Linked DNA regions of Homo sapiens. The protein of the gene in region 1 interacts with the protein of each later gene in a biochemical or structural test. Each region holds a gene or a part of one and is shown in the gene's direction. Other genes may lie near its edges. The genes, in order: PAFAH1B1, KATNB1 and NDE1.

What was found.
Region 2: the proteins of PAFAH1B1 (region 1) and KATNB1 form a complex in vitro, tested with the Homo sapiens proteins (one study listed by BioGRID).
Region 3: the proteins of PAFAH1B1 (region 1) and NDE1 form a complex in vitro, tested with the Homo sapiens proteins (one study listed by BioGRID).

Annotation. Positions count from the first base shown.
Region 1 is NC_000017.11:2,596,556-2,603,664, forward strand, and holds part of PAFAH1B1 (platelet-activating factor acetylhydrolase IB subunit beta), read left to right. Parts: intron 1-7,109. UniProt on the Homo sapiens protein: Regulatory subunit (beta subunit) of the cytosolic type I platelet-activating factor (PAF) acetylhydrolase (PAF-AH (I)), an enzyme that catalyzes the hydrolyze of the acetyl group at the sn-2 position of PAF and its analogs and participates in PAF inactivation.
Region 2 is NC_000016.10:57,738,770-57,745,878, forward strand, and holds part of KATNB1 (katanin p80 WD40 repeat-containing subunit B1), read left to right. Parts: intron 1-2,917; coding exon 2,918-3,048; intron 3,049-5,624; coding exon 5,625-5,742; intron 5,743-7,109.
Region 3 is NC_000016.10:15,653,156-15,660,264, forward strand, and holds part of NDE1 (nuclear distribution protein nudE homolog 1), read left to right. Parts: intron 1-7,109. UniProt on the Homo sapiens protein: Required for centrosome duplication and formation and function of the mitotic spindle. Essential for the development of the cerebral cortex.

The DNA of each region.
Region 1 (7,109 bases):
AAAGAATTTCACATATAGGTGGTAAATGTGACTTTGATTAGCCTTATGAATGCTTGTCAGTGTATGATGTATTTTTACACTTTTGTTCTTTTTAATATGATTAGAAAGTAGAAGGGTTATTATGGTGAGGAAATGAGTAAGGTTGGGAATGATAATTCACTGTATTATGTGTCTGACATATCCCTATTCCTACTGTTTGTAGAATATCAAAGCACACTAAGGTCCAGGTGCAGTGGTTCACGCCTGTAATCTCAGCACTTTGGGAGGCCGAGGCAGGTGGATCACCTGAGGTCAGGAGTTCGAGACCAGACTGACCAATATGGTGAAACCCCGTCTCTACTAAAAATACAAAAAAATTAGCCATGTCTTGTGCCATGCGCCTGTAATCCCAGCTGCTGGGGAGGCTGAGACAGGAGAATAGATTGAACCCGGGAGGCGGAGGTTGCAGTGAGCCGAGATCGTGCCACTGTACTCCAGCCTGGGCGACAGAGCAAGACTCTGTCAAAAACAAACAAACAAAACCCCACACACTGAGTGGTGATTTTTCAGTAGATTGTTGTTAATCAGGAGCTTAAGATAATTTGACTTAAGGAGCTTTAGTTCCAAGTGTATGTAGTGTTTCTTGATACATGTTGGAGAATCTTAGGCTTAATTTGGAGATTAATTTTTAAAATTATTCATAGTTCTGTATAGAACTCTTAATGAGATTGGAAGGAATTTTTTAGTACAATTTTTTGTTACCTGTTTTTCCAGATAAAATATCTCTAGTGTAAAGAGATTTTGAGATGTTTCTGGGAAGGAAAAGTCAGAATCATAATTTATGCTTTTCTAGCTAGAACATCCGTGTCTTTTTTTTTTTTTTTTTTTTTTTTTGAGGGGAAGTCTTGCTCTGTTGCCCAGGCTAGAGTGCAGTGGGGTGATCTCAGCTCACTGCAACCTCTGCCTTCTGGGTTCAAGCGATTCTCCTGTCTCAGCCTCTTGAGTAGTTGGGATTACAGGTGCCTGCCACTACACCTGGCTAATTTTTGTATTTTTAGTAGAGATGGAGTTTCACCATGTTGGTCAGGTTGGTCTGGAACTCCTGACCTCGTGATCCGCCCGCCTCTGCCTCTCAAAGTTCTGGAATTACAGATGTGAGCCACCACACCCTTCCCTATTTTCTATTTTTTAAAAATAATATAAATGTTTCTCTCTCAGTTGTATACTAAGTAACAGAGAGACAGAAAGTGTGTGTGTGTGTGTGTCTGTCTGTCTGTCTGCGTATATGAGACTTTATGGCTTATATTTTAAGTATCCAGCAAAAATAAGACCCTCTTGTTTACATGTGGTTCATGTTATTCATAATTTGTCATCTTTGTGAATAAGTCATGGATGCTATAGAAATTGTCAACATTAAGATGAAGATGTCTGGCCAGACATGGTGGCTCACACTTACACTCCCAGAACTTTGGGAGGCCGAGGCGGGTGGATCACCTGAGGTCAGGAGTTCAAGACCAGCATGGCCAACATGGTGAAACCCCGTCTCTACTAAAAATACAAAAAAATTAGCCGGGCATGGTGGCGCACACCTGTAGTTCCAGCTACTGGGGAGACTAAGGCAGGAGAATTGCTTGAACCCGGGAGGTGGAGGTTGCAATGAGCCGAGATCGCACCATTACGCTCCAGCCTGGGCAACAAGAGCGAAACTCCATCTCAAAAAATAAATAAATAAATAAAAATAAGATGAAGATGTCTTAAAAAACCCAAAGCAAAATATTAGGGCAGAGTGAATTTTCAATATCTTCCCATTGAGTTCTAAAGCAGTGAGTCATGCGCTCTTTTGCCAAAGGGACTTGAGGCTCGGTTGGTTTTAAACCAAGCTGGCCATTTCTGCTTGTGGTCCTAAAATATTTTTTACTTGCCTCTAAGTCCCTGTTAACGAAAATATTTCATTATGACAGGTAACTTATTTTTATGTGCTTTGGAAAGAGGGAAATAGTTAAGTTTTGAAGTGGAAATTCTTTGCCACTGTTTTTATTATGTCATCTACAGTACAACTATTACTTTTTTTTTTTTTTTACTTAGAAAGTTGTTCTATTTAAAATAAAACTAGTGGTATACAATACGAGTTCTGAAAAAAAGACAGACCTACCGTTCTCCAGAAGATGCTTAGCTGTAAATTGAATCCTCGTCATTGAAGGTCAAACATTTTGAGAAATCTGTATTTCATGAAGAAAGATGCTGTATTATGTAAGCGTAATAGTTAACTGCAGTGAAGGCTTTTTGGATTGTTCTTTGTTGCTGGTTTGGCATGGCACTTTTTGGCTAGTCATTGAAATGGAACCTTAGTTTAACTTCTGTTACATATGTAATTTTTAACCTTGGCATGGCAGTCATAGAATTTAATTGATATTTATGAAATGCTTTATATTCATTGGTGGCAGGCATCATAAGCACTTATTATTTTATTTCTTGTTTTCTTTTTAAAAGATGGTGGCTTCTTGTTGAAACTTACCTAGATAGGACTAATCTGCATTTGTCAAGGATACTTCTGGAATGGTACTCTCTATTGTCTTTTAACATTGTCATAAACGTTTCTCTAGAACTTTCTAAATATTGAGCTTGGTACTGATTTTCATTTGTTCTTCTGCCAGCTACTTTTTGAGGTAGATTGGTATTTTTATGGATGAGAGAACTGAAATCCAGAGAATTTCTTTTCCTGTCGAATGTTAGGTTAGTGACTAGAATAAGGTAAATATTGCAGTCACAGAACTCTTGGGTACTGCTTTGTAAAATCACACATTCCTTCTTTCTATAACGATTGGACTCCTTAATCTTTGTTAAATGGTGAAAGTTGGTGGTATTTATTGCCTGCATCATTTAAATTGGCATTTATTAACATATGGTCTTGTATTGTTGACTGCTTTGCATGCATAAGGCTTTTGGCATTTGAGTAGCTTCTCCCAAAAAATGCCTAATACTGCTTTACAGATAGTATTAATAAGTGAATAAGTACTAGTTGCATTTGACTGAATGGTTATGTGAAAGGAAATGTGCTATCCTAAAGATCTTTGTAATAGTTGACTCCGGTGATCTCAAGAGAATTAAGGTGATGGAGGAAAGAGTGGCTGCATTTCGTATACAGAGATTTTATATTCTCTGAGGGAACAGGGTTACACTTTGACAGAATTCTTAAGTATAAAAAGTGAATTAACTCAACTGGACAAATTACCTATACATTTTGATTATCTGCTTTTGGGGCTCTTATGTTGACAAGAATTGACAGTTAACTGAGGCCATTAAAAAATTTTCTGAGACTTTTTACAAAAGTAAAATTAAGAATCTTTGAACATTTTAATAAATTTAATTTTTGAAAGCATTGTAGAAAGTTATATGTTTATTAAAATTTTACAGTGCAGATTAATCCATTTTTAACCTTTTTTTTTTTTTTTTTTTTTTTTTGAGGTAAGAGTCTCACTCCATCACCCAGGCTGGAGTGCAGTGTCTCGATCTCAGCTCACTGCAACCTCCACCTCCTGGGTTCAAACGATTCTTCTGCCTCAGTCTCCCGAGTAGCTGGGACCACAGGCACATACCACCACAGACAGCTAATTTTTGTATTTTTACTAAAGAACTCCTGGCCTCAAGTGATCCACCCGAGTTGGCCTCCCAAAGTGCTGGGATTACAGGTGTGAGCCACCACACCCAGCCCAATCCATTTTTAATCTAAGGTAAAGATAGAAGAGTTTGTTTTATGGGTTGGGCACTGTGGTTCATGCCTGTAATCCCAGGACTTTGGGAGGCCAAGGCGGGCAGAAGGTGATCAGGAGTTCCAGACCAGCCTGGCCAATGTGGTGAAACCCTGTCTCTACTAAAAATACAAAAATTAGCCAGGTGTGGTGGTGGGTGCCTGTAATCCCAGCTACTTGGGAGGCTGAGACAGGAGAATTGCTTGAACCCGGGAGGCGGAGGTTGCAGTGAGCCGAGATCGTGCCATTGCGCTCCAGCCTGGGCAACAAGAGTGAAACTATCTCAAAAAAAAAAAAAAAAAACCAAAAAAAGAAAGAATATGTTCTATGATATACTAGTGTTTTATCTATTTCTTTTCATATTTTTATTTTATAAAAAATATGCTAACTACAAAAGAAAGAAGATGGAGATAAATGAGTCAGATGTTTTGATTATTTAGTATTTTGGTTAAGTTTTTCTTTTTGAGACGGACTCTCGCTGTGTTGCCCAGACTGTAGTACAGTGGCGCGATCTCGGCTCACTGCAACCTCCGCCTCCTGGGTTCAAGCGATTCTCCTGCTTTAGCCTCCCTAGTAATAGCTGGAATTACAGGCATGTGCCACCACACCTGGCTAATTTTTTATTTTTAGTAGAGATGGGGTTTCGCCATATTGGCCAGGCTGATCTCGAACTCCTGACCTCAGGTGATCTACCCACTTCAGTGTCTGAAAGTGCTAGGATTATAGGCATGAGCTATCATGCCTGGCCTTGGTTAACTTTTTATGGGTGAGGAAAGGCTATACATTTAGCATTGTCAGAGAAAATGAAATAAGCTGTTGACTAAACTCATACATGAATATTTATTTATTATTTATTTATTTATTTTTCAAGACTGAGTCTCGTTCTTGTCGCCCAGGCTGGAGTGCAGTGTTGCGATCTTGGCTCACTGCAGCCTCCGCCTTTTGGGTTCAAGTGATTTTCCTGCCTCAGCCTTCTGAATAGCTGGGATTACAGGCATCTGTTACCCTGCCCAGTGAAGTTTTTTGTATTTTTAATAGAGATGGGGGGTCTCTGTTGGCCAGGCTGGTCTCGAACTCCTGACCTCGTGATCTGCCCACCTTGGCCTCCCAAAGTGCTAGGAGTACAGGCATGAGCCACCGTGCCCAGCCACACCTGGCTAATTTTTGTTTTTTGAGATGGAGTCTCCCAATCTTGTTGCCCAGGCTGGAGTGCAATGGCATGATCTTGGCTTACTTCAACCTCTGCCTCCTGGATTCAAGCAATTCTCCTGCCTCAGCCTCCCGAGTAGCTGAGATTACAGGTGCCTGCCGGCATACCTGGCTCATATTTCTATTTTTAGGAGAGATGGAGTATCACCATGTTGGTCAGGCAGGCCTTGAACTCCTGACCTCAGGTGATCCTCCTGCCTCGGCCCCGCAAAGTGCTGGGATTACAGGCATGCACCACGGCGCCCGGCCTAATTTTTCTATTTTCTGTAAGAGGTGAGGTCTTGCCATGTTGCCCAGGCCAGTCTCAAACTCCTAGCCTAAGCAAACTGCCTCAAGCCATCTGCTCACCTTTACCTCCCAATGTGCTGGGATTACAGGCATGAGCCACTGCTCTCAGCCTAAGAAAAAATATTTTTAAAGTTGACAAATGTAGAAATGAGCTAAGATTTGTCAAAGGGATCAATAAGTAATGAAATATTCTGGTTATCAAAGTTTATCATATATGAATGAACAGTGAAAAAATTGGAAATAACAGAATTAACAAATTTTAATTTGTCTTTAATGGTTCAGCAGTCACTTAAAAATTTTTACAGTATTACCATGATGCTATAGTCTTTATCATCACAAATCCCAACGTAAAGATAAAAAAAAACCCCACTTAATAAAATCATTATTCAAGCTTTCTGGCTCTTCGACTTGGGCTAAATAAGTGTTCTGTATAATGGTATGTCCTTAAAGAGAAATTATCTCCACCTACTGAAAAAAAAAACAAAACAGCGAGGGCCTATCAATTTGAGAGTTTAAACAGGCCTGTGGTTCGCATTTTTATGGAAGCATCATAATACAACCCCAAGACATCAAATGTCACTAGCACAGAAGACATCTAGGATCCAAAGTTCTTAGAAGAATATTACTTTTAAAAACATTAGAAATAATACTTTACGTGGGACTCAACCTTGACTCTTCTTTCTTCCTCTATATCCAATCAATTACCTTGTCTTGCCAATTTTACCTCCTCGATATTTGTTGAGTTAGTCCCCTTCTATCCATACTTACCATTACTACTACTACCATCATAGTTCACATAATCTCTTACCCAACTAATTTCACATCGTCTCTCTAAATTCAGTCTTGTCCGGTTAACGTCTTTCTGCTACATAGTCCCCAGTCATCTATCTAAAATGCAATCTGACCATATCACACTTCCCTACTTAAAAAGAACCCTCCCTTGGCTCCCTTTGTATTTATTTAACAAATATTTACATAGCACTTACTAATACGCCAGGCTCTGTTTTAAGTGCTTTACAAGTATTCGTTTACTCCTCACAACATTCTGGGAGAATTTAGCTAGCCCTTTGTGACAGCTTTGTAAGTAGCAGAGCTGAAAGTTGAACCTCAGGTACTGAGGCTCCACAGTTGGGGCTTTCAGCCACCGTACTGTGCTGACTCCCTCTTTCCTATAGTCCACATACTTTAACACAGTTTGCTAGGTCTTCAGTCACTTCAAGTTTCATTTCTAATCAAGCCCCACCTTGCTCACACTCTAATATATATATGCTTTCTCCCTCCCCACTTTGTGATCTTTGTGATTCTACTCCTGCTGTCCTCTCTGTCTAGAGCAACTTGTAGTATCTCAGAACAGAGTGCAGTGAATACATTTTGACAAAAGAATGATTTTTTTTTTTGAGACAGGGTCTGGCTCTGTTGCCCAGGCTGGAGTGCAGTGGCTAACTACAACTCTGCAAATCCTGGGCTCAAGCAGTCTTCTTGCCTCAGCCTCCTGAGTAGCTGGGTCTACAGGCCCGCGCCACCATGCCTGGGTAATTTTTGTATTTTTCAAAATACAGGCCAGGCGCGGTGGCTCACGCCTGTAATCCCAGCACTTGGGGAGGCCGAGGCAGGTGGATCACCTGAGGTCAGGAGTTCGAGACCAGCCTGGCTAACATGGTGAAACCCCGTCTCTACTAAAAATAAAAAAATTAGCTGAGCGTGGTGGTAGATGCCTGTAATCCCAGCTACTTGGGAGGCTGAGGCAGGAGAATTGCTTGAACCCAGGAGGCAGAAGTTGCAGTGAGTTGAGATTGCACCACTGTACTCCAGCCTGGGCAAAAAGAGCAAAACTTTTGTCTCAAGGAAAAAAAAAAGTATGTATATATGTATACACACACACAT
Region 2 (7,109 bases), on another chromosome or scaffold:
TCCCTTCGACAGCTGGCCTTTCCCCAGAGCTAGGCACTGGGGAGCCACTGGGGGACAAAGTAGTCAAGGTCTCTGTACAGCGGGAGCTCAGAGCCTGGGGAGAGCAACAGGCAGGAACTGGATAACCGTATCCCTCTGTGTCTCCTCTAGTTGCAAGCTGGTGCCTGTGCTTTGAATCAGTTAGCTGGGGGGTAGGGGTAGGGGTGGGGTGGGAATGCTGCAGGCTGCATGAACAGCAAGTGCAAAGGCCCTGAGGCAGGAGGCTCAGTGTATTGGAAGGACTCAAGGGAGGCCATGGGCAGTGGCACAGCAGCAGGAGGAATGTGGGGCCGCACGGACCTACTGAGTTCTCAGGACCCCAGCCCTCCTGAGGCTGCCGTGCTTTATCATAAAGGCAAGGCCAAGCCATCAGTGTGTGCGAGCAGGAGGTAATGAGATCAGGCGTATTGGGCATCTGCTGCTGCTGCTGATTTCATGTGCACGGTGGTGTCCGTGGGAATCAACTCTGAAGAGCCCAGGGCCACGTGACCTCTGGCTCCTTGTGGCTCCAGGGTCTGGTGAGGATCAGAGGTGCGTGGCCCACATGAGGTCGTTGAAACCTAGTACTTTGTATCTTGCATTTGGGATGCTGATCCTCAGCCCCTCTGGCCACGCCGCACCATGTTCCCCAGCTTTGGCTGGATGTGGGGCCCAGGTTGTACTCCCAGAGCTTGGCCTGCCAGTAGACACTGAGGATTTTTATTTTTTATTTTTGGTATGAAAATCAAGTATTCGGCCTGGGCTGTTGGTTGCTGTCCAACAAGCCAGGATGAAGGAGGAGCTCTTGGGGTGGTGCCCCGTGCCTCCTTTGCAGGTGCCTGTGCTGTGTCCCTGCCCCTCTGCCCTCCCTCTGTGGGCTCCAGTCAGTCCCTGGTCAGGCTGCTTAGAGGGGAGTGATGTGGGCTCCTCCAGAAGGGCCCAACTTCTAAATCTTTCTCACTCCAAAGTCTGCGGTTTTGCCAGCTCAGTGTCCCGCCCCCACCACCATCTGATTATACTGGGGCATATTTCGTGCAAGGCCTAGAACAGGCACCCAGGAAATACTGATATTATGAATGAATGCCCCTGACTCCAGGGGCAGCAGTCCTGAGGCCCAGTGAGGTGGGGCCCAGCCAGACACTTTCCCTGGGAGGAGTGAGGGCCAGGGGACAGACAGAGCCCTCCAGGTAGGCCAGGGGGAGCGAGCAGTGCCTCCACGGAGAGGACACCAGGCTCGGGCACGGAATGCCAGGGAGAAGGTGCTTTGCCCTCTTTCTGGGTCAGGTGGAAACCTTGAACAGACACGTCTGTGGCTGGAATTCCTCAGGTTTCTGTCCCGACAGTGTCCAGAGGACAGAAGGCTCTCATCGAGACGGGACTAAAGTGGGGCCCAGCTCCCTGGGATCCCCATGGCGAACTCCCAGCGCCCTGGCCCAGGTTTGGGCCCACAGGGAACCCTCGCCCTTGCTGGCGCTGCTGCCTGTGCTGGCTCTGCCCCGACCGGCCCAGGAGGCAGGGTGTCATCAGTGAGATTCAGCCTGCGACTTGTCCCCTGGGTATTCCTGGTGGCCCCTTGGAGCCCAGGTTTCTGGCAAGCAGCTTCCCTGGGCCCAGTTTCCCAACCTCCTTGTGGTCTGAAGCCCGCAGCAGAGACACCCAGGCAGGGTGGAGTCGGAGCTGGGGTGCAGGAGGGGCCTCTGTGGAGCGCCGTGGCTCCAACACCCTTTTCCTTGGCGTCACCCACGCTGGCCTTCCGGGTGCCTCGGGGCGTCAGCACCTTGGGGTTTTCCCCTGGCCTGTGTGGGGAGAACTGTCTTTTTTCTCCCTTCTTTCCAGGAGGAGCTCATGCAGGGATGGGTTCTGAGGCCCGGGCCGCCTCTTGGTTCCCTGCCTGTGCTTTGCTCCCTGCGGAGTCCTCCGAGGCTCCTGTCTGCCATCTCCACGGACCAGGCCAGGGCCTTGGGCTGTCTGCACAGGCTCCTCCTCTGTGTGGTCAGCCCTCACCCCCACCCCAGCTGCTCAGTCTGTTGCCTCCTGCCCCCTCCTCATGAAGCCCACCCTCTGGTGCCCGCCCAGGCCCCCATGCCCACTCTCTCATGGTGACTAGCCCCGAGCCTGCCCAATGTCACGGAGCCCTCGCCTGCTACTAAGCAGCACGTAGGCGCGCTCTGAGGGAGTCCTCAGCATCAGGTGTGAGCAGACACCACGGGCATCCCCACTTTCCAGACGAGGAGCCAGGCCCTCAGAGGACAAGTGACCTAGTAGCCAAGGCCACGCAATAGCAGATCACAGACCTCAGACCAGAACCTGATCCGTGATTGTGAATCTGAGCCGAAGCCCTGTGCAGGCTTACCTGGGGGCAGCTTGTCTAGAGGTGACTTCGGTTGTTCTTAAAGTGTGTTCTCCAAAGCAGGGTTTGTATGTACACACAAGCAGCAGCTGAGAGGTGTGTAGGCAGTGCATGGGTCAATTTTTTTTATTTCAATAATTGTTTTTCTTTTTGTATCATAGAAAGAGTATCATGAGTATATCAAACTTGTAATTTCATGGACATTGCTTAAGCCCAAGCTAATAAAAATAGCAAGTCAATTTTAAAAATTGCGTATAACTAGTCAATATTACCAGGTGATATGCAGAAACAGGAAGAAAATCGTGAAGTCTAAAGGTAGGAAAGACAGGCATGATGAAAGTTGAGAAACAGTGATTTCCGTCTCAGGCCCATGCCCTGCCCTGTCTGCTGGTCCTGCAGCTCATGGTGGACACCAAAGGGGGAGCTGAAGGAGGCAGATCCTTCCACTGGGCTTCAGGTTCCAAAGCGGGTAGCCGAGCAGGGTCACCCCTCCTTCACAAGGCCCCATCGGGCCGCCCTGATGGCCTCTCCCTCTCCTTCCCTGTGTAGAAGAGATCGTCGCGCATGCCAGCAACGTGTCCTCACTGGTGCTGGGCAAAGCCTCCGGGCGGCTGCTGGCTACAGGCGGGGATGACTGCCGCGTCAACCTGTGGTCCATCAACAAGCCCAACTGCATCATGGTGAGCCCCGACAGCTGGCGGGGGGTCAGGACAAGGGCCTGGGGAGGGGACGGGGACAGGGGTTGGAGGCTGAAGAGTGAGCAGCTTCTCAGACTCTCTTGAGCCCAGGGCCCCCTATCCGCTGGGGCCCAGCTCAGGGGTGGAGGGGGCGTGGTGGGGACACCATCAGTGCTTCCCCCAGCTGTCTGCTCAGTGAGGCCCAGGACAGCCCAGCATGGCTGGGACAGTGGCCAGCCCTCAGGAGCGAGGGAGTCACCTGCCTGTGGTACTATTAAGAACTCCAGGCAGGCTGCGTGAGAAGATTAAAATAAGCCCTGGGCCTGTGGTTGAGCCAAAAGACTTGTACCCCTCCCCTCCCACCTGCCCATCTGCCTGCCTGGCAGCAACATGTGGGCGTTTATTTTAATTCATTCCCAGCCTTCATTCCCCAATGAGGATTTGAGGGGACCTGGCTGGAGCTGGTTAGGGAGCTAGTTCTTAAATAGCATCTCCCCACTATTTATGCAGCTATATGTTCAATGCTGGAAACTGTTTTCCAAATAGGAGTGCATAAAGGAGAAAACACAAAATTAACTACATATAGTTCCGTTATCCAAAGGCCACCACAGTTGGTGTTTTGGTGTGAGTCCTTCTAGATGCTGAGACAGATACATATACGTGTACATGCACGTAAGTGCACACTTGTACATGCATGTACACATGTATACACACAAATACTCATACAAGCACACACACATAAATAAAAATACACTGCCACTCTTGTGCAGCCTGGTTTTTAAAAATAACAATGTTGTAAGGATTTGCCTGTGTCAACAAGTATTCTTTTACAACATAATTTTGAATGGCTTAATGGTGTTCCATTGTAGGGATGAGCCGTAATTAGCTTAGCCACACCCTGTTATCAGCAGAGAGGTTGTTTCCGGCTTTTTTTGGCTCTGCTAAAGCACCCTGTGGTGAACATCCTCAGCCACCTAGATCCTTGAGCAGATCCGTGATCACTGCATTCAATCCAAGGGTGTGTGCTTTTGTTAAAGCTTTCAAAACAGATTGCCAAATTGCCCCCCAGAAATCATTTTACATTCTCACCAGCAGCATCGGAACCTGCCCTTTCCTCCCTGCCCCAACCCCCATCCCTTGCCAACCAGGGAGTATCATTGTTGTGACTCTTGGTGAAATAAAGATGAAGAGGAATAGGCCGGGCACAGTGGCTCACGCCTGTAATCCCAGCACTTTGGGAAGCTGAGGCGGGTGGATCACCTGAAGTCAGGAGTTTGAGACCGCCCTGGCCAACATGGTGAAATCCTGTCTCTACTAAAAACACAAAAATTAGCCGGGCGTGGTGGCAGGCACCTGTAGTCCCAGCTACTCAGGAGGCTGAGGCAGGAGAATCGCTTGAACCTGGGAGACGGAGGTTGCAGTAAGCCGAGATGGTGCCACTGCACTCCAGGCTGGGTGATAGAGCAAGATTCCATCTCAAAAGAAAAAGAAAAAGAATATGGCAAAGGATGAATTTCTTAGTAGAAACTTAATCACCTCAGTGTTTTTCTGAGATCCAGGGGGAGAACTGAGATCCACCCCAGCCTCAGCAAGGGTGCCAGGGGTCAGTAATGATGAATTGAATTGTTTTGTTTTACTTTGTTTCTAGGATTCAAATGTGTTTTCTACCCCCATGAAATGCCAAAGTAGTAGCATACACAAGTTGAAAAAGCATCACCAATGACTGACCAAAAATAGGACATGCCACGACCCCCAGAGAAACGGGGCCAACCGTCTGGGGCCTGGCCTGCAGGCTTGTTTTAGAACGCCAGGTGCAGCTGTCAGGCCCCAGCCGGCCTCACCCCGGGCCCCTGCCCTGGCTCACACACACCAGCCTCCCAGGCCTCGCAGTGCCTCCAGCCTGCCGGGGTCTCTCTCCCCTTGGGGTTTCTGTGCACGCTGTCCCCCTGCAGGCCGTCCACTTGGATTTATTTTTATTTTTGAGTATGGGATACACTTATTCTGTTCAACATCCAAAAGATAGAGGATCCACAGTGAAAAGTCTTCCACCCTCCTCCAACCGCCACAGCCCTCTCCTTTCCACGGGGATGGGCAGTCAGGGAGAGCCAGGGGTTCTAGAGGGGCGAGATGTGTGCCCAGGACTAGGCAGGCCTTGGTTCCGCTGTGGCTTACCTCGCTGAGGGGCTTGCCTGGGGCAGAGTGAAGATGGGAACAGAGCGGGGGCAGGGTTGCTTAACTTAGGGCTGAAGGGACAGCATCCCTTTATCTTGTCCAGTCGCTCCCCTCCAAGGGGCCCAGGGCCATTTCTGCAGGTGACGCCCATGTCAGAAGCACAGCAGGGAAGAGGGAGGTGGTGGGGGGATGATTGGGGTTTGGCCACTCTTAGCCCTGGGAGCTGAGGCCGAGAGGAGTAGGTGCTCAGAAAGGGCCTGCAGGAGGGCTAGGCTGTGGCCCCCATGGGGCTCCCCCTCCTGCCTTAGCCATTTCTTGCTGAAGCCTTTCCGGGGGACTTGGAATTCAGGGCGCAACTGCAGGGGTCTGTCCAGCAGTGCACGGAAGCTGCTGCTCTCTCTCCACAGAGCCTGACGGGCCACACATCCCCAGTGGAGAGCGTCCGCCTCAACACCCCCGAGGAGCTCATCGTGGCCGGCTCTCAGTCGGGCTCCATCCGTGTCTGGGACCTGGAAGCTGCCAAAAGTAGGCCTCCGAGCTTGCCTCCTGTGCACGCACACCTGCCTTAGTCTTCAGGCTCTGCAGTTGTACTGCTTCCTCCAGGAAGCCTGCCTGGACTACGTTGGCTGCTTTGCTCCTGGAGCACTAACCCGGCAGTGTGGCACCCACTCCACCCCCATTAGCCTGGCATTGACATGCACTGCTGCCTCGTGTGGGTGGGGGGATGTGCGGGTGTGTGTGTGTGTGTGTTTGGATGTATGTGTGTTTGGATGTGTGTGTCTGCGGGCACGTGTGTGTGTGTGTGTGTGTGTGTGTTTAGAACCTAGAGGGATGTCACATGCCGCCAGGGGCCCTGCAGGTCACATGAATGAGTGAGGTGGCTGCGTGGGACAGCCATGAAGAACCGGGGAGCTTGTACCCTGACTCCAGGTGGTCCCCACTCTGCCTTGGCTCCCTGGTGCCATTAGAGGCAGCCTGGAATGGCCAGATCTGTTTCCTTGTGCTCTGTTTTAATTTAGTTTTCATCTGTATAGAAGTTGTACATAGCCTAAAATTTAAAACCTCAAATACCAGTATTTCTACAATTAATTTCAATGGAAAGAGGAAACTTCTGCCCCACTCCTTCCCATTCTCCATGAGCCTAAACTTTCTGTGCTTTCGTCTGTGCTTTGCTGATCGCCTCCACCTTTCTAGACCACATGGTCATACCACAGTTTCTTTCTTTTCTTATTTAAAAAACACCGTGGCCAGGCGCAGTGGCTCACGCCTATAATCCCAGCACTTTGGGAGGCCAAGGCAGGCGGATCACCTGAGGTTGGGAGTTCGAGACCAGCCTGACCAACGTGGAGAAACCCCATCCTGAGGTTGGGAGTTCGAGACCAGCCTGACCAACGTGGAGAAACCCCATCTCTACTAAAAATACAAAATTAGCCGGGTGTGGTGGCACATGTCTGTAATCCCAGCTACTTGGGAGGCTGAGGCAGGAGAATCACCTGAACCCGGGAGGTGGGGGTTGTGGTGAGCCAAGATCGCACCATTGCACTATAGCCTGGGCAACAAGAGCGAAACTCCATCTCAAAAAAAAAAAAAAAAGTTAACACATTAGTTATTCTCTTCCTACTGTAAAGGATGAGAATTTAGCTCTCTCATGGCACCACTCCCAGCCCCATGGCTCGTGTTTCTCCTCCCACCCTCCCAGTAGCACCATTTCAATAGGTGGTGTTTATAATGTAAGGACGCATAAGTGTCATTTACCACTGACTATTTCTTTTTAATAACTTGGTTTCCCTGGAGTTAATAATAGTTCCTTTTTTTTTTTAATCTGTGTGTTTTCTATGTCCATATTACTCATTCATCCCCAAATTCTCTGCCAGAAGAGTAAAGCTCCTCCT
Region 3 (7,109 bases), on another chromosome or scaffold:
TCCTGAGCTTTCTTCCATATTAGTACTTACAGTTCTTAACAACTGCATCGTTTTCCATTCAGTCCTCTGTTGACATTGAGGTTTCCAGTTTTCCACATTCGTGAATGATGGTGTGCATCTTTGAACATGGGTCCTTGCCTGCCTAAGTATTTTTGTAGGTTGATCATTGTAAACTTGGAAAGCACAAAGACAGAAGCCAGGCTTGCTGACTCTTGACTGATGTTGCCCCAGTGATGTCACTCCTGCAAAATGCAAAGCCTGCGTCCTGGCTGTCGGAGCATGTGTGGACATTTGGCAGCTTCTTTCTCTTCCCTCCTGCTCTTCTGTTTGTTTTGATTGGGAAGGATATGGAGTGGGGATGGAGAAGGGTGTTGAGTAATTATCGATGGTTTCTGTATGTTTATTGCTCCTGACTAGCAGTGCTGGGTTTCTTCTCTCAGAGGAAAGCTGAAAGAGATTGCTTTGCTTTTTTCCAGAGTTTTAAAATCAGAGGTGTGTGTCTCGAGTGTATTTTCAGACTTTTTTGTTAGCTTTAATCATGTAAAACATGCAAAAAAAAAAAAAGCATGTGGAAACAATTTTTTTTTTTTGAGACGGGTTCTCGCTCTGTCACACAGGCTGGAGTGCTGTGGGGCGATCTCGGCTCACTGCAACCACCGCCTCCCATGCTCAAGTGATCCTCCCACCTCAGCCTCCTGAGTAGCTGGGACCACAGGTGTGCATCACCACACCTGGCTAATTTTTTTGTGTTTTTGGTAGAGATGGGGTTTCACCATGTTGCCCAGGCTGGTCTCTTATCTGCTGACCTCAGGTGATCTGCCTGCCTCACCCTCCCAAAGTGCTGGGATTACAGGCATGAGCCACCACACCCGGCCGGAAACAAATTTTTGAAGGAGGCATAGATCTCTGTTGTGCAAAATAGATACTTTTTGTACCACTGGGTCCTAGTTTGTCATTGTTCCTTGCATGATCCCATCAGATTTGTCTACAGAGCTGCTGGGGCATGATGGTGTGGTGGCGTATTAAGAACGCAGGTTAGTGGCACACAGATGAAATAAATGCATGTGGGGTGCATTTTTAAGATAGCAGGTGCAAAGTTGTATATACTGAGACCAGGCATTAACACTTGCCTATTACAGTGCCTTTTAAAACACTATGTGAGGGCCGGGTGCAATGGCTCACACCTGTAATCCCAGCACTTTGGGAGGCCTAGGTGGGCAGATCACCTGAGGTCAGGAGATCGAGACCAGCCTGGCCAACGTGGCGAAACCCCGTCTCTCCTAAAAATACAAAAAATTAGCCAGTCGTGGTGGCATGCACCTGTAATCCGAGGTACTAGGGACGCTGAGGTAGGAGAATCGCTTGAAGCTGCGAGGCAGAGGTTGCAGTGAGCTGAGATCACACCACTGCACTCCAGCCTGGGCAACAGAGAAAGAGATTCCGACTCAAAAAAAAAAAAAACAAAAAAAAAAAAAACAAAACTGGACCAAATGAAACAAGTGAATCTGATCTGCAGTCAGTCAGTTTGCAACCCCTGGGAAGCCTTGGACTTGAATGCAAAGATCCCTTGAACTTGGATCTAGTTTGCCTCTGCTGCTCACATGCACATTTAGAGATGGCCAAGGCATACGGTGTTTCTGCTTCCAAGAAACAGAGTGGTTGTCCTGTTTAGCCATCTCTTACAGTCACACAGCTTAAAGAAGATAATGTTTGCAAACAATTTTTGAAATGTCTAGCACACAGCAAACAGAAGGTCAAATTCAGTACTTAATGCTGATAAAATAAGAGAACCCTTGCAAGTCATGTTGCCTGCTTTCTGCCACAGAGAGTACTGCAATAGAACTTTCTGACGTTTTCATGTTGTTTATTTATTTATTTTTTGAGACAGAGTCTTGCTCTTGTGCCCAGGCTGGAGTGCAGTGGTACAATTTCTGCTCACTGCAACCTCTGCCTCTGGGTTCAAGCAATTCTTGGGCCTCAGCCACCCAAGTAGCTGGAATTATAGGTGCGCTCTACCACACCTGGCTAATTTTTGTGTTTCTAGTAGAGACAGGGTTTCACCATGTTGCCCAGGCTGGTCTTGAACCCCTGGGCTCAAGCAATCCACCCACCTCAGCCTCCCAAAGTGCTGGGACTACAGGCGTGCATCGTGACGCCCTGCTGATTTGTGTATTTTTAGTAGAGACGGGGTTCACCTTGTGCTGGTCTCAAACTCCTGGGCTCAAGCAATCTGCCCACCTCAGTCTGCCAAAGTGCTGGGATTACAGGCGTGAGCCATCGTGCCCGGCCTCTCTCTGACATTTTTGAATGGCAAAGGCAAAAATCTTATACTTTTAAGGATGTGGAGAAATAGGAACACTTTTACACTGTTGGTGGGACTGTAAACTAGTTCAACCATTGTAGAAGTCAGTGTGGTGATTCCTCAGGGATCTAGAACTGGAAATACCATTTGACCCAGCCATCGCATTACTGGGTATATACCCAAAGGACTATAAATCATGCTTCTATAAAGACACATGCACACGTATGTTTATTGCGGCATTATTCACAATAGCAAAGACTTGGAACCAACCCAAATGTCCAGCAATGATAGACTGGATTAAGAAAACGTGGCACATATACACCATGGAATACTATGCAGCCATAAAAAATGATGAGTTCATGTCCTTTGTAGGGACATGGATGAAATTGGAAATCATCATTCTCAGTAAACTATTGCAAGAACAAAAAACCAAACACCGCATATTCTCACTCATAGGTGGGAATTGAACAACGAGAACACATGGACACAGGAAGGGGAACATCACACTCTGGGGACTGTTGTGGGGTGGGGGGAGGGGGGAGGGATAGCATTGGGAGATATACCTAATGCTAGATGACGAGTTAGTGGGTGCAGCACACCAGCATGGCACATGTATACATATGTAACTAACCTGCACATTGTGCACATGTACCCTAAAACTTAAAGTATAATAATAATAAAGAAAAAGAAAAAAAAAGATTGCTGTTTTATGATAAAGTGAAGTGCAGCTGTTACTTCTTCCTTCTTTGCTTCCAGCATCTCTCTTCCCTAAGGATTGCTTTTAAAATGTAAGAGTTTTTGGTTGAAATGCTGTTCCTGTGGTTTTTGTCTCTTGGTTGGAGTGAAAGATTTTGCAGGCTGTGATACAAATCCAGTTCTCTGCTTATTTTCTCCTCAGTCCTTGAAATCCAAAACCAGATCCCTCCCATTGGCCCGTTGTAATTAGAACCTGCCCCACAATAGACGCACCTCCTAAAGCATCTCAGATTCATTTCTTTCCTGAGGATTAAGTTTTTAAACCTTCCTGGCCAAGATAACAGTGTTTTAAGAGGCTCTTTTCTTTTATTATTATTATTATTATTATTACTCTTTTCTTTTTTTGAGATGGAGTCTTGCTCTGTCACCCAGGCTGGAGTGCAGTGGCAGGATCTCTGCTCACTGGAACCTCCACCTCCCGGGTTCAAGAGTTTCTTCTGTTTCAGCCTCCTGAGTAGATGGGATTACAGGCATGTGCCACCATGCCCAGCTAATTTTTGTATTTTTAGCAGAGATGGGGTTTTACCATGTTGGCCAGGCTGGTCTCGAACTCCTGGCTTCAAGTGATCTACCCGCTGTGGCCTCCCAAAGTATCAGGATTACAGGCATGAGCCACAGCACCCTGCCAGGCTTGGGTGTTCAAGGAAGAGAAAGAAGGCAGTGTGGCTGGGACATAAGTGAATGAGAGGTGGTAGGGTAAGAAATGTGTAGAAAACTATGCAGGGGCCTGATCACATTGGATCTTGCACATCTTTTTCCAAACCTCAGGAGGAGTCATTCTGCTTTTGTTGTTACTGGTTCCTCACTTCCGCACTTTATTGTATGCTGACAACCTTCCATACCATGGGACTGAGACTGCCCTCAATAGTATCACCAATGTCTTTTTTTGTTTTTTTTTTTTGAGGCAGAGTTTCACTCTTGTCGTCCAGGTTGGAGTGCAATGGCGTGATCTTGGCTCACTGCAACCTCCGCCTCCTGGGTTCAAGCGATTTTCCTGCCTCAGTCTTCCGAGTAGCTGGGGTTACAGGAGCCTGCCACCACACCTGGCTAATTTCTTGTATTTTTAGTGGAAATGGAGTTTCACCATGTTGGCCAGGCTGGTCTTGAACTCCTGACCTCAGGTGAACCACCCGCCTTGGCTTCCCAAAGTGTTGGGATTACAGGCATGAGCCAACGCACCCAGCCACCAATATCTTAATGGCCACACAGTGCTCATTGATAGATGCCTTGGCCCTGGGCTATTGTTGCTATAGAATTGGTTTGATGAGTACATATTACATGAGATCTGGGCTCATTAGAGCTTATGGCTTGAGCAGGGACTCCTTGGCCTAGGTTTATGCTGCTCCTGGCCTTGTTAATGACTGCTATTAACACTCTACCCCCTTTTTATTTTTTTGAGATGGGGTCTTGTTCTGTCGCCCAGGCTGGGAGGCTGGAATGCAGTGATCTTGGCTCACTGCAGCCTCCGCTTCTCAGGCTTAAGTGATTTTTCCTGCTTCATCCTTCTGAGTAGCTGGGACTACAGGCACGCACCGCCGTGCCCGTTTGATTTTTGTTTTTGTTTTTTTAGTAGACACGGGGTTTCACCATGTTGCCCAGGCTGGTCTCAAACTCCTGACCTCAAGTGATCTGTCTGCCTCGGCCTCACAAAGGGCTGGGATTACAGGCATGAGCCATTGCGCCAGGCACCACTCTACCCTTTTGACTTTGAGCAAGTAAGGTCGTTGATTCCATACATTCATTAAGATTCCTGCGTGGCAGAAATCTAACCCCAACTGGTATAACCAAGACAAGGAATTGATTATCTCATAACCTTAAATCAGGTGTGGCTGCATCTAGGTGTTCAAATGATATTGTCAGGACCCAGGCTCTCCATCCCTTGGCCCAGCTTTCCTCTGTTTTGGCTTCACTCTGAGGCAGGCTCTCCCTTGTGATAGCAAGATGACCACCGGCAGTTTCAGGCTTACCTCCGGCTTCAGGCTTACCTCCAGCTTCAGGCTTACCTTACCAACCCTAGTGGAAAGAGAGTTTCATTTTTGACAGCTATGCAAAAGGTCTGGACCTGGGCCCTCACTGGCTTAGTATGGGTTAGGCCCATCCTTAAGCCAATCATTGGCTCAGCATGGGTTAGATCCGTGACTGTCACTGGCTGAGCATGGGGGTTAGGCTCACCCTATCATTGGCTCTGCGTGAATTAGGCCCACCTCTGTCACTGGCTCATCGTGGGTTAGGCCCACCCATGAGCTGATCACTAAGGTCGTGAATAGGCATATGCCTCTTCCCAGGTGTGGAGGATGATGTCAGATCCCTCTGAACTCATGAAATGAGTAGGGTATTCTCCCAAGGGAATATTGTGCTGTCACAGAAGATGGAAAAATGAATGCATGTCTGGAAAAAACAAGCAAAACTACAAATCATTAGCTTTATATGACATTTATTTATTTTTTGTTTATATGTTTTTGAAATGGAGTCTTGCTCTGTTGCCCAGGCTGGAGTGCAGTGGTGTGATCGTGGTTCACTGCAACCTCTGGCTCCCGGGTTCAAGCGATTCTCATGCCTTAGCCTCCCGAGTAGTTGGGATCATAGGTGCCTGCCACCACACCCAGCTAATTTTTGTGCTTTTAGTGTAGACAGGATTTTACCATGTTGGCCAAGCTTGTCTTGAACTCTTGACCTCAAGTCATCTGCCTGCCTCAGCTTCCCAAAGTGTTGAGATTACAGGCATGAGCCACCACGTCTGGCCAGCTTTGTATGACATTTCGCCTTTCTGCCTTGATCAAACTTTCAGAGAATCTGCTTTCCAGAGGGATGAGTGGGTCGGGAAATAGCATGTTTTCTCTGAATGAGGGAAAGGATTGAAAAAGTAGGAGGGAGAAAGGATGTGAATATGAGTCCCAACAAATGCAGAGTTATCGGTAAGTTTTGTGCTTGAATCTAGGTACAATTGTGCATTTCCTGGTTCTGCATGAATTAGGCCCACCTCTGTCATTGGCTCAACATGGGTGAGGCTCACTAACTTCCACCAGAAGTTAGTGGTGGTGTCTGTGTTGACACTTACATGTTTAGCCTAATGATTTCATGTTTTAACCAAAACTATATAGCTTGTTGGTTATATCTTAGAAAGTGATGGTTTTTGCTCATTCTTTTGTCCCCAGGGATACACACCAGCCTCTAAGTTCTCTTGAGGGAAGGAAGGGACCTTGCACACAATCTTTTTTTTTTTTTTTTTTTTTTTTTTTTTGAGAGGAAGTCTCACTCTGTCACCCAGGCTGGAGTGCAGTGGTGCGATCTCGGCTCACTACAACCTCTGCCTTCTGGGTTCAAGTGATTCTCCCGCCTCAGCCTCCCGAGTAGTGGGGATTACAGGCGCACACCACCATGCCCGGCTAATTTTTATATTTTTAGTAGAGATGGGGTTTCAGTGTGTTGGCCAGGCTGGTTTCAGACTCCTGAGCTCAGGTGATTCACCTGCCCTGGCCTCCCAAAGTACTGGGATTACAGGTGTGAGCCACTGCGCCCGGCCTTGGACACAATCTTTTTTTTTTTTTTTTTTGAGACGGAGTCTCGCTCTGTCACTCAGGCTGGAGTGCAGTGGCACGATCTCAGCTCATTGCAACCTCCACCTCCTGGGTTCAAGCAATTCTCCTGCCTTAGCCGCCTGAGTAGCTGGGACTACAGGTACCTGCCACTGCGCCCGCCTAATTTTTGTATTTTTAGTAGAGATGGGGTTTCACCATATTGGCCAGGCTGGTCTCAAACTCCTGACCTTGTGATCTGCCCGCCTCGGCCTCCCAAAGTGCTGGGATTACAGATGCGAGCCACTGAGTCTGGCCTGGACACAATCTTACTTGGATTCCTCATGCCCTTTTGACAAGCTCAGAGCCTCAAATAAATTCAGAAAATAGGTGATTACATCAAACAGCCTCTATCAACAGGGAGTATACAAACCGTTAGCCCAACTGTTAATAGAAGTCTGCTTTCTTGCTGGGTGTGGTGGCTCACACCTAGAATCCTAGTGCTTTGGGAGTACAAGGCAGGAGGATCGCTTGAG